Linked DNA regions of Homo sapiens: region 1 is linked to region 2. Evidence: fine-mapped expression QTL. A gene starts in region 2. The other region holds a variant in brackets. All regions are shown on one strand. Distances are from middle to middle.

Region 1 (4,391 bases), 260 kb after region 2:
CCGGCAGCTTGTCAGCCCTGCCAAGGGCTGTGCCCTCATCCTAGCAGGTGTTCTCTGGGCTGCTGCTTATTCATTCATTTGTTCAACAAATCTGGTTGGGTACTACGAGCCAGGCACTGTTCTAGGGCAGGAAGTGGTAGGACAGGAGGGGAGAGGGCTGGACCATGATAAATACACATGCTTCAGGGGAGGGCCAGGCAAGGAAGACAGAGCCCAGTGGGAAGGGAAGAGGGGTAGGCACTGCTGTTTCCCCTCAGTGGTGGGGAAGGCCTCTGAGGAGGGGCCAGGCACAGGAGCGCAGCAGTGAGCCATGGGGGTGCTTTGTAGACAAGGGGATAGCAGAGGCAAAGGTCCTGCAGGAACAGGCCAAAGCACTTCAGGAAAAGCCATGAGAACCAGGCCTGGAGCAGGCAGAGACCGAGGGAGGAGTTGCAAGGGAGGGCCGCCTGGGGAGGCTGTGGAAGGGACCTGGGATTTTCTTTGAGGTGGGGCTGTTGAGAGTTGGGTGCAGAGGAGAGACCTGATGTAACCCACCTTTTTCTTTTTGAGACAGGGTCTTGTTCTGTCACTCAGGCTAGAATGCAGTGGTGTGACCATGGCTCACTGCAGCCTTGACCTGCTAGGCTCAAGTGGTCCTCCCACCTCAGCCTCCAAAGTAGCTGGGACCACAGGTGCAAGCTGTCACGCCCAGCTAATTTTTTTCATTTTTTTGTAGAGGTCTCCCTATGTTTTCCAGGCTTGTCTTGAGCTCCTGGGCTCAAGCGATCCTGCTGCCTCAACCTCCCAAAGTGCTGGGATTACAGGTGTGAGCCCCTGTGCCCGGCCTCACCTTTTCTTACTGTTGTGGTGAGAATAGATGACACAGGGGCCAGGAGGGGCAGGGAGCCCAGGGCAGCATCCAGGGGGCAGCTGGACAAGGATGTGGGGCAGGGTGAAGACATAGGACTGTGAGAAGTGTGCAGACTCCAGATGGGGCTGAGGCAGAGCTCAGGGCTCTGCTGGCGGGATGCAGGGTGTGGGGAGAGGAGTCGAGGGGATGGAGCAGATGGGCGTGGGGAGGAGCTGGTACCAGAGTGGGAGCTTGGAGAACAGGGGAGTGACTGGGGCTCTGAGGTGGACCCTGTTGATGTTTATATGGAGATGTCAGCAGGACATCCAGGTGGGGGTGCTGACAGGCAGCAGCAGACAGCCTGGAGCTGAGAGAGAGGCTGGGTGGGGGATACTGACCAGGCCTGGGAACCTCACACAAGGGAGCCGCAGGGTTCAGAATGTGGCCAGCTGGTTGTTAAACACAGCCATTATTAAAACTAAATGATGCAAGTGTACAATTAAGTAACACCAAGAAAGCAAAGGTAATTTTTAAAAACTAGTAAAAGAAGAGCAAATTAAAACCAAAGGAAGCAGAAGAAAAGGAAATAATAAAGAGTGGAAACCAATAAAATTGAAGACAGTAAAACTAAAGAAAATCAATGAAATTAAAAGATGGTCCTTTGAAAAAGAGAGAAGACATAAATCAGCAGCCTCACGGATGAAAACGGGGTGTCACTATAGGCTCTACGAGCATTAAAGGATAGTGAGTAGTGAGTATTATGAACAACTCTAAATAAATACATTGTAAAATCAATTTGACAACTTAGAAGAAATCATGGACCAATTCCTTGAGAAACACGGCCTCTCACTGTATTAGCTTTCTATTGCTGCTATGCTAACAAATTACCATGAGCTTTATGCCTTAAAACATTCCCAGTCAATTTTCTTACAGTGCTGTAGGTTAGAAGTCTGGCCCAGTTCTCATGGGGCAAAAATCCAAGTGTCGCAGGGCTGTACTCCTTTCTGGGTGGGGTCCATCCCTTGCCTTTCCCAGCTGCTAGGGGCTGTCTGTATTCCTTGGCTCCTAGACCTTCCTCTGTCTTCAAAGCCAAAAAAGGAAGTCAAGGTCTTCTCATAT[T/C]GCACCATTCTGACCTCCTCTTCTGCCTCCATCTTCCATTTTTAAGGACCCTGTGATTACAGTGGGCCCACCTGGATGATCCAGGATAATCTTCCTATCTGAAAATCAGCCAATTAGCAACCTCAGTTCCATCTGCAACCTGGATTCGCTTTCTGCCATGTAACATAACATGCGCAGGCCCAGGGATTAGGATGTGGGCATCTCTGGAAGCCATTATTCTGCCTAACACAAGCTGCTGAAACCCACTCAACAATAGATAACCTGTGTAGCCCTACAGGTACTAAAGAAATGGAATTTACTGTTTAAAACCCTTCCACAGAGAAAACTCCAGACCTATGTGGTTTCACTAGCAAATTCTACCAACTAATACCAATTTTATACAGTCTCCTCCAGAAAATAGAAGAAAACATTTCCAAACTCATTTCATGAGGCCAGCATTGCCCTGACACCAATACTAGACAATGATATATCTTTTCTTTTCTTTTCTTTTCTTTTCTTTCTTTTCGACAGAGTCTCACTCTGTTGCTCAGGCAGGAGTGCAGTGGCACGGTCTCGGCTCACTGCAACTTCCACCTCCCAGGTTCAAGTGATTCTCCTGCCTCAGCCTCCCGAGTAGCTGGGATTACAGGCACCTGCCACCATGCCTGGCTAATTTTTTGTATTTTTAGTAGAGATGGGGTTTCACCATGTTGGCCAGGCTGTCTCGAACTCCTGACCTTGTGATCTGCCTGCCTCGGCCTCCCAAAGTGCTGGGATTATAGGCGTGAGCCATCGTGCCCGGCCTGACAATGATATTTCAAGAAAAATATCCTACAGGCTAATATCCCGTCATCAACAAGATTAGGGAGGTAATGGCGACAGGAGATCCTGTAGGCTATGGCAAAGACTTTAGATTTTTCTGAAGTCTCTACAAAAATCCTCAACAAAATATTGGCAAATTGAATGCAACAATATGTAAAAGGATAATATAACCAAATGGAGTGTACCCTGGGAATGCAAGGCTAGTTCAATTAGTTCACCATATTAACAGACTAAAGAAGAAAAGGCCACACCATCATCTCAACAGATATAGACAAATATTAAGCAGCCATAATAAAAACTCTCAGCAAATTGGAACAGAAGGGAATTTCCTTAACCTCATGAACAGAAACCACATAAAAACCTACATCTAACATCAAACTTAAGGGTGAAAGGCTGAATTCCTTCCCCCTCAGATTGTAAAACAGGCAAGAATGCCCACTCTCCTGACTCCTTTTCAACATTGTACTAAAAGTTCTGGGCACTGCCTTAAGGCAAGAAAATGAAATAGCATACAGATTGAAAAAGAAGAAATAAAATTGTCCCTATTCACAGATGACATGAGTGTCAATGTAGAAAATCCCATGGCATCTGTAAAAACAATTTCACAGAACTAGCTAATGACTTTAGCAAGGTCATAGGATACAAAGTCAGTGTATAAAAATCAACTGAAAAGTGAAATATGTGCAGGATTTTATGCTGAAAATTATGAAATACTGATGAAGTAAATCACAGAAGATCTAAGCACATGGACAGACCTACTGAGTTCATTCATGGGTTGGAAGACTCAACATTGTTAAATGATGTCAGTCCCCACAAAATTGATCTCTAGATTCAATGCAGTCCCCGTAGGAATTCTTTAGGTATCAGGAGTCTTATTTGAAAACTTACATGGAAATGCAAAGAACAAGAATAAGAATAGCTAAAACAATTTTGAAAAAGAAGAACCAAGTTGGAGGGCTAACACTTGCTGATTTTAAGATATAAACCTGTAATACCACAGTGTGGCATTGGCCAGACCCACACAGATATAGTTAATTGATTTTTGACAAACATGCAAAGGCAGTTCAGTGGAGAAAAGACTGTCTTTTCAATAAATGGTACTGCAGTCATTAGACAGTTTTTTTTTTTTTTTTTAGAGTCTTGCTGTGCCACCCAGGCTAGAGTGCAGTGGTGCAATCTTGGCTCACTGCAACCTCTGCCTCCCAGGCTCAAGTAATCCTCCTGCCTCAGCCTCCCAAGTAGCTGGGACTACAGGCATCGAATCTTTTTGCCTAATTTTTCGTTTGGTTGACTGTTTTCTTAATGAATTTTGAGGGTTCTGTTCATTTTCTGGATACAAGTCCTTTGTCAGATATGTGATTTACAAATATGTTCTGTTTGTAAGTTTTTATTCTTTTAACAATTTCACAGAGGTTTTTATTTTAATGAAGTCTAATTTATCCATTTTTAAATTTTATGAATGGTGACTTTGATGTTGTCTCTAAGAACTCTGCCTAACTCTAAAGTCACAAAGATTTCTCTTCTGTCTTCTTCTAAGAGTTTTATAATTTTACATTTAGGTCTCTGATTTTGAGTTAAATTTTGTATAAGATGTGAGGTACTGTAAATAGGTCAAGGCTCATTTTAAAAAATATGTTGAGGT
Region 2 (4,391 bases):
AGTGGGAGACAGACTATCCCTTTCCTACCACATACCTGAGCTGGTTAGATCCGTCCCAAGGAGAAAGGCCCCGCTTTGAGCGCTGGCAGCTGTGTTCAGCTGGACTCTTCTCTTGGCCCAAGCATTCATTTATTCATGCTATTATAAGATTTGAGCTTATTCTATTTTTAAGGCTCTTACTCTTGTAGCACTTTATTAACATCTTTTTTATAACTCGTGCCAGTCTTATTATAATTTATATGTTCATTCTCTAATTTATCACTCATGAAATATTTGTTGAATATTTATTATCTGTACTTATGGTACTAGGCAGTGACATAAGCTAGAATTATTCTTAGGCCCAGTTCTTCTCACTGGTCTCCTGGGTGTTCCAGGGGAAAAGTGAGCTGTTCTCTTTCCAAATCAGGCCCTAGGTGTTTTATCTAGACCTTTCTCATAAACTGGCACTATTCACTGAACTACTGCCCAGGGGCTTGTTCTCCCTTCCCATACTAGTAACCAAGGTTTGCTCAGTGGCTATGAAGTCAGTTTCCCATCTGCTTGAAGTAAACATAATCAAGAAGGTAAATTGTCTGCTAGAAGCTCATAGAGTACATGGAAAAGGGAAGGGAAGTCCAGAAATAGGTTGTTTGCTATTGGGAAATACTTGCCATTTGGGGAGGTAACTGTCTGGATTACTGTTTTCTCCACTCATGAATGACCAGGAATCACTATGTGGGGGATCTGAGGGCAGGAGGGGGCAGTCATTTTTATTCATCAGGTTAAGCATGTCTAGGCAAGGGGAAGGTCTAAAAGTGGAATAGTGGAAAGAGAACAGGACATTGGAGACACTTAAATCTAGCTTTAACTCCCAGTTCTACCACTTCCTGACTGTATGACTTTGTATAACTCCTTTAGCCTCTTTGAGCGTCAGCTTCTCCATTTATAAAAAGGGGATGACCATTCTGCTCAGAGGACGTTATAAGTAAATAAAATATATATGCAGCACCTGGTACAGAAAGCATGATATTCACTGGTACAGCAGAATTACAACTGCGTTGACACCAGCCTGGGCAACATAGCGAGACCCTGTCTGTAAAAAAAAAAAAAAAAAAAAAATTAGCCTGGCAACGGTGGCACGCGCCTGTGGTCCCAGCTACTGGATGGAGGCTGAGGGGGAGGATCCCTTGAGCCTGGGAGGTCAAGGCTGTGATAAGCCAAGATCCTGCCACTGCACTCCAGCCTGGGGGACACAGATTCTGTCTTAAAAAAAAATCAGAATCGCAAGTGACCTTTATTTTATTTTATTAGATTTTGAGACAGAGTTTCACTCTGTCACCCAGGCTGGAGTGTAGTGGCACGATTTTAGCTCACTGCAACCTCTGCCTGGTGGGTTCAAGCGATTCTCCTGCCTCAGCCTCCCAAGTAGCTGGGATTACAGGCGCTCGCCACCACGCCTGGCTAATTTTTGTATATTTAGTAGAGACGGGGGTTTCACCATGTTGGTCAGGCTGGTCTTGAACTCCTGGCCTCAAGTGATCTGCCTGCCTGGGCCTCCCAAAGTGCTGGGATTACAGGTGTGAGCCACCGCGCCCGGCCACCTGATGCTATTTTTAAAATAACTGGTCCTTGTAAAAAATCTACACAAGTATATAAAGTGAGTGGCTTAAAGGTGTCCTATTTTGCATGAATTTGCGAGAAATTTTATTGCTGGAGACTCTCGGCTTCTGTCCCAAACTGAGTCACAAGAACTTGATTTATTTTTACTCCGCACCCCTCTGATTGCTTTCTGAGGGTCCTTCCGCTAGAAAGAAATTACATTGTTGGAAAATCAGACAGGAAACTTCGCAGTTCCAGCCTGGAAGCAAAAGCAGGCGTGAAGCTATCTCTTCAGCCCTCCCTCCCCCCAAGGGGAGGGGCACGGGGGCAGCTCGTGCAAGAGTCTGCAGAGGGCGGGGCTAGGGGCGGGGCTCCCACCTCGGTGCGGGGCGGGGGGCGCCGCGCGCTGGTCTGGCGGCCCGCGATTGGGCGAGGCCGCGAGCGGCGTGACAGCTGCCAGCTCACCGGCTCAGACGGTCGCCGCCGCGTTTGCGCAGGGGGAGCTGGTCGCCGCCGCGGCCGCCTGGAATTGTGGGAGTTGTGTCTGCCACTCGGCTGCCGGAGGCCGAAGGTAGGGGCGGTGAGGGCCGCCCGGCCCTGGAGCTGGGCGGGGGGCTCAGGGCGCTTCCTGGGCCTCCTCCTGCCGGCGGCCTCGGCGCCTTCCCAGCAGTGTTCTGGGGACCCACACATCCTCACTAGTGTCTCCAAAGCGGGACGTCCAAGTGGGCCCGGGGCTCCCTGCCGAAGGCCTACCTTTCTTATCTTTCCCACTCAGAATGTCTCCATTCACCTCTTTATTGGCAGGAGATGGGGCCGTGGAAATTTGAGATTGGCTTTGGCTCCGCACCTGTTTTTAGTGCCCTTGCCTGTTTCATTCTCCCAGCCTAAGTTTCCGTATCTGTCCGAAGAAGGGGTGGTTTGGTGTTGATCTCCGAGACCCGTGTGTCTCTTCCCATGTGGAATTATTGTCACTCTCTTATTGCTTGTTTTTCTTTGTCCTGGAAAATTTGCCTTTAGAGGTTACAGACTGGTTAGTGTTATCTCTCGGATCGTCTAGGGGCTTTGTGCATAAGCCTTGGGCTCCATTCCCTGGGATTTCCGATAAGATGGTGCGTGGGCAGCTGTACCCCAGGGGGTTCTCATTCAGGTGGTCCCGGAATCCTGGCTTTGAAAATCCCTGCTTCAGAAGTCAGGAGAGAATGACTTGACATATGAGCCCCTGGAATGGGGCTCTGAGTGGGAAAAGCCAGGAATCAGGAAATGCTAACACGTGTGAGGCTGGGGCTTTCTTTGCACCGGAGGAATTAGAATGCCATTTGATGTCTTTTAAAAATATTTGACTACCTATATATGTAAGATCAGTTTTCTAATATTCTTAAATGCCTGGCTTCGTTTAAAGTTCAGTTGGCTTTCCCACCTCAATAAACCTAAATAAAAACATGATCTGAGAGATGGGGCGGGGGTTAAGTTAACCCAAACTAAGTAGACAGGAGGAGAATGAAACTTACATATTTGCTAAGAGAAGAAAGTGATGTGTTTATAAACAGTTTTTTTTTTTTTTTTTTTTTTTTGAGGCGGAGTTTCGCTCTTGTTTCTCAGGCTGGAGTGCAATGGTGCCATCTCGACTCACAGCAACCTCCGCCTCCCAGGTTCAAGCGATTCTCCTGCCTCACCTTCCCGATTAGCAGGGATTACAGGCATGCGCCATCGTGCCCGGCTAATTTTCTATTTTTAATAGAGACAGGGTTTCTCCATGTTGATCAGGCTGGTCTCGAACTCCTGACCTCAGGTGATCTGTCTACCTCGGCCTCCCAAAGTGCTGGGATTACAGGCATGAGCCACCTCGCCTGGCATATAAACAGGTTTTTTTTTGACATTGTGAAAGATATTTTGTTGTGTGTGTGTGTCTTTTCTGCTCTCACCCCACCCAAGTTTTTTTCTTTTCTGATAAAAGTATAGCCAGATTTGGGGATTGGGTAGGATTTTGATGGGAGCCAGAGTGTAACGATATTGGGATTGATATTTGTATAACATGGGTCAGAACTTGGTCTGTGGTTTTGAGAACATGGCTCTCGGGTTTTTAAGATGGTGTTACCACACCACATTTATTTCCCCTTTCTTTCATTTGTTTAGTGAATTTAATCTGCTCATGAATACATGTGCTGTTTTAATGAAATTGGCAATAGAAGAGACGTTCTGCTCCCATTTTACAGGTGATGGAAATGTTAGTAGGGATGCGGCAGTCCAGGAATGAAAAGTTGCCTAGTACTTTGATTCCCACTTACTTCCCCTTCCCTGCTGTTTTCTGAAGGCCAGCTATTACTTCTCTACTGAGGCCAACTGTGAGCCCTGGTGTGTTTCATTGGCAGGAGAAGAGGCTAATTAAGTGAAACTGAAAGGTAACAAAATGGATTTTAAAATAACTGACATGTGGGAACTTGATCCACCAATGAATGTTCTCCTTTAGAGTGATGTGTGCAGGTGTAGGTGGTGGGAGTTGAGGATGGCGTGCCTAAGTGATTTGGCTGTTGTCCAAGGCAGTTTTGAAAATCCACCTCTGGAATTGTTTTCAGAGACCTTTTTGAACCATGCGAGAGATCAGTTTCTTTAATATATTAAACCATACTGTATTATTATTATTATTATTTTTCAGATGGGGTCTCACACTGTGGTTCAGGCCGGAGTGCAGTGGCATAATCATAGCTCACTGCAACCTTGAACTCCTGGGCTTAAGTAATACTCTCACTAAAGCCTCCTGAGTAGTTGGGACTACAGGGGCGCACCACCAGGCCCAGCTAATTTTGTAATTTTAA

What was found. PIP is the estimated chance that this variant, and not a neighbour inherited with it, causes the effect. A credible set is the group of variants that fine-mapping cannot tell apart.
Region 1: its variant is the best candidate, but not a certain one, in a credible set for the expression of SIL1 in whole blood (TOPMed, PIP 0.73).

Annotation. Positions count from the first base shown.
Region 1 is chr5:138,939,716-138,944,106 of GRCh38, reverse strand. No RefSeq gene overlaps it. Among named protein-coding and RNA genes, the nearest start is that of LRRTM2, 67 kb to the right of the region's middle. The variant T/C (reference allele first, on the strand shown) is at 1,949.
Region 2 is chr5:139,196,027-139,200,417 of GRCh38, reverse strand. It overlaps SIL1 (SIL1 nucleotide exchange factor), which reads left to right and starts at 2,050. Exons shown (of 10, transcript NM_022464.5): 1 at 2,050-2,149. RefSeq lists a silencer at 1,845-2,374.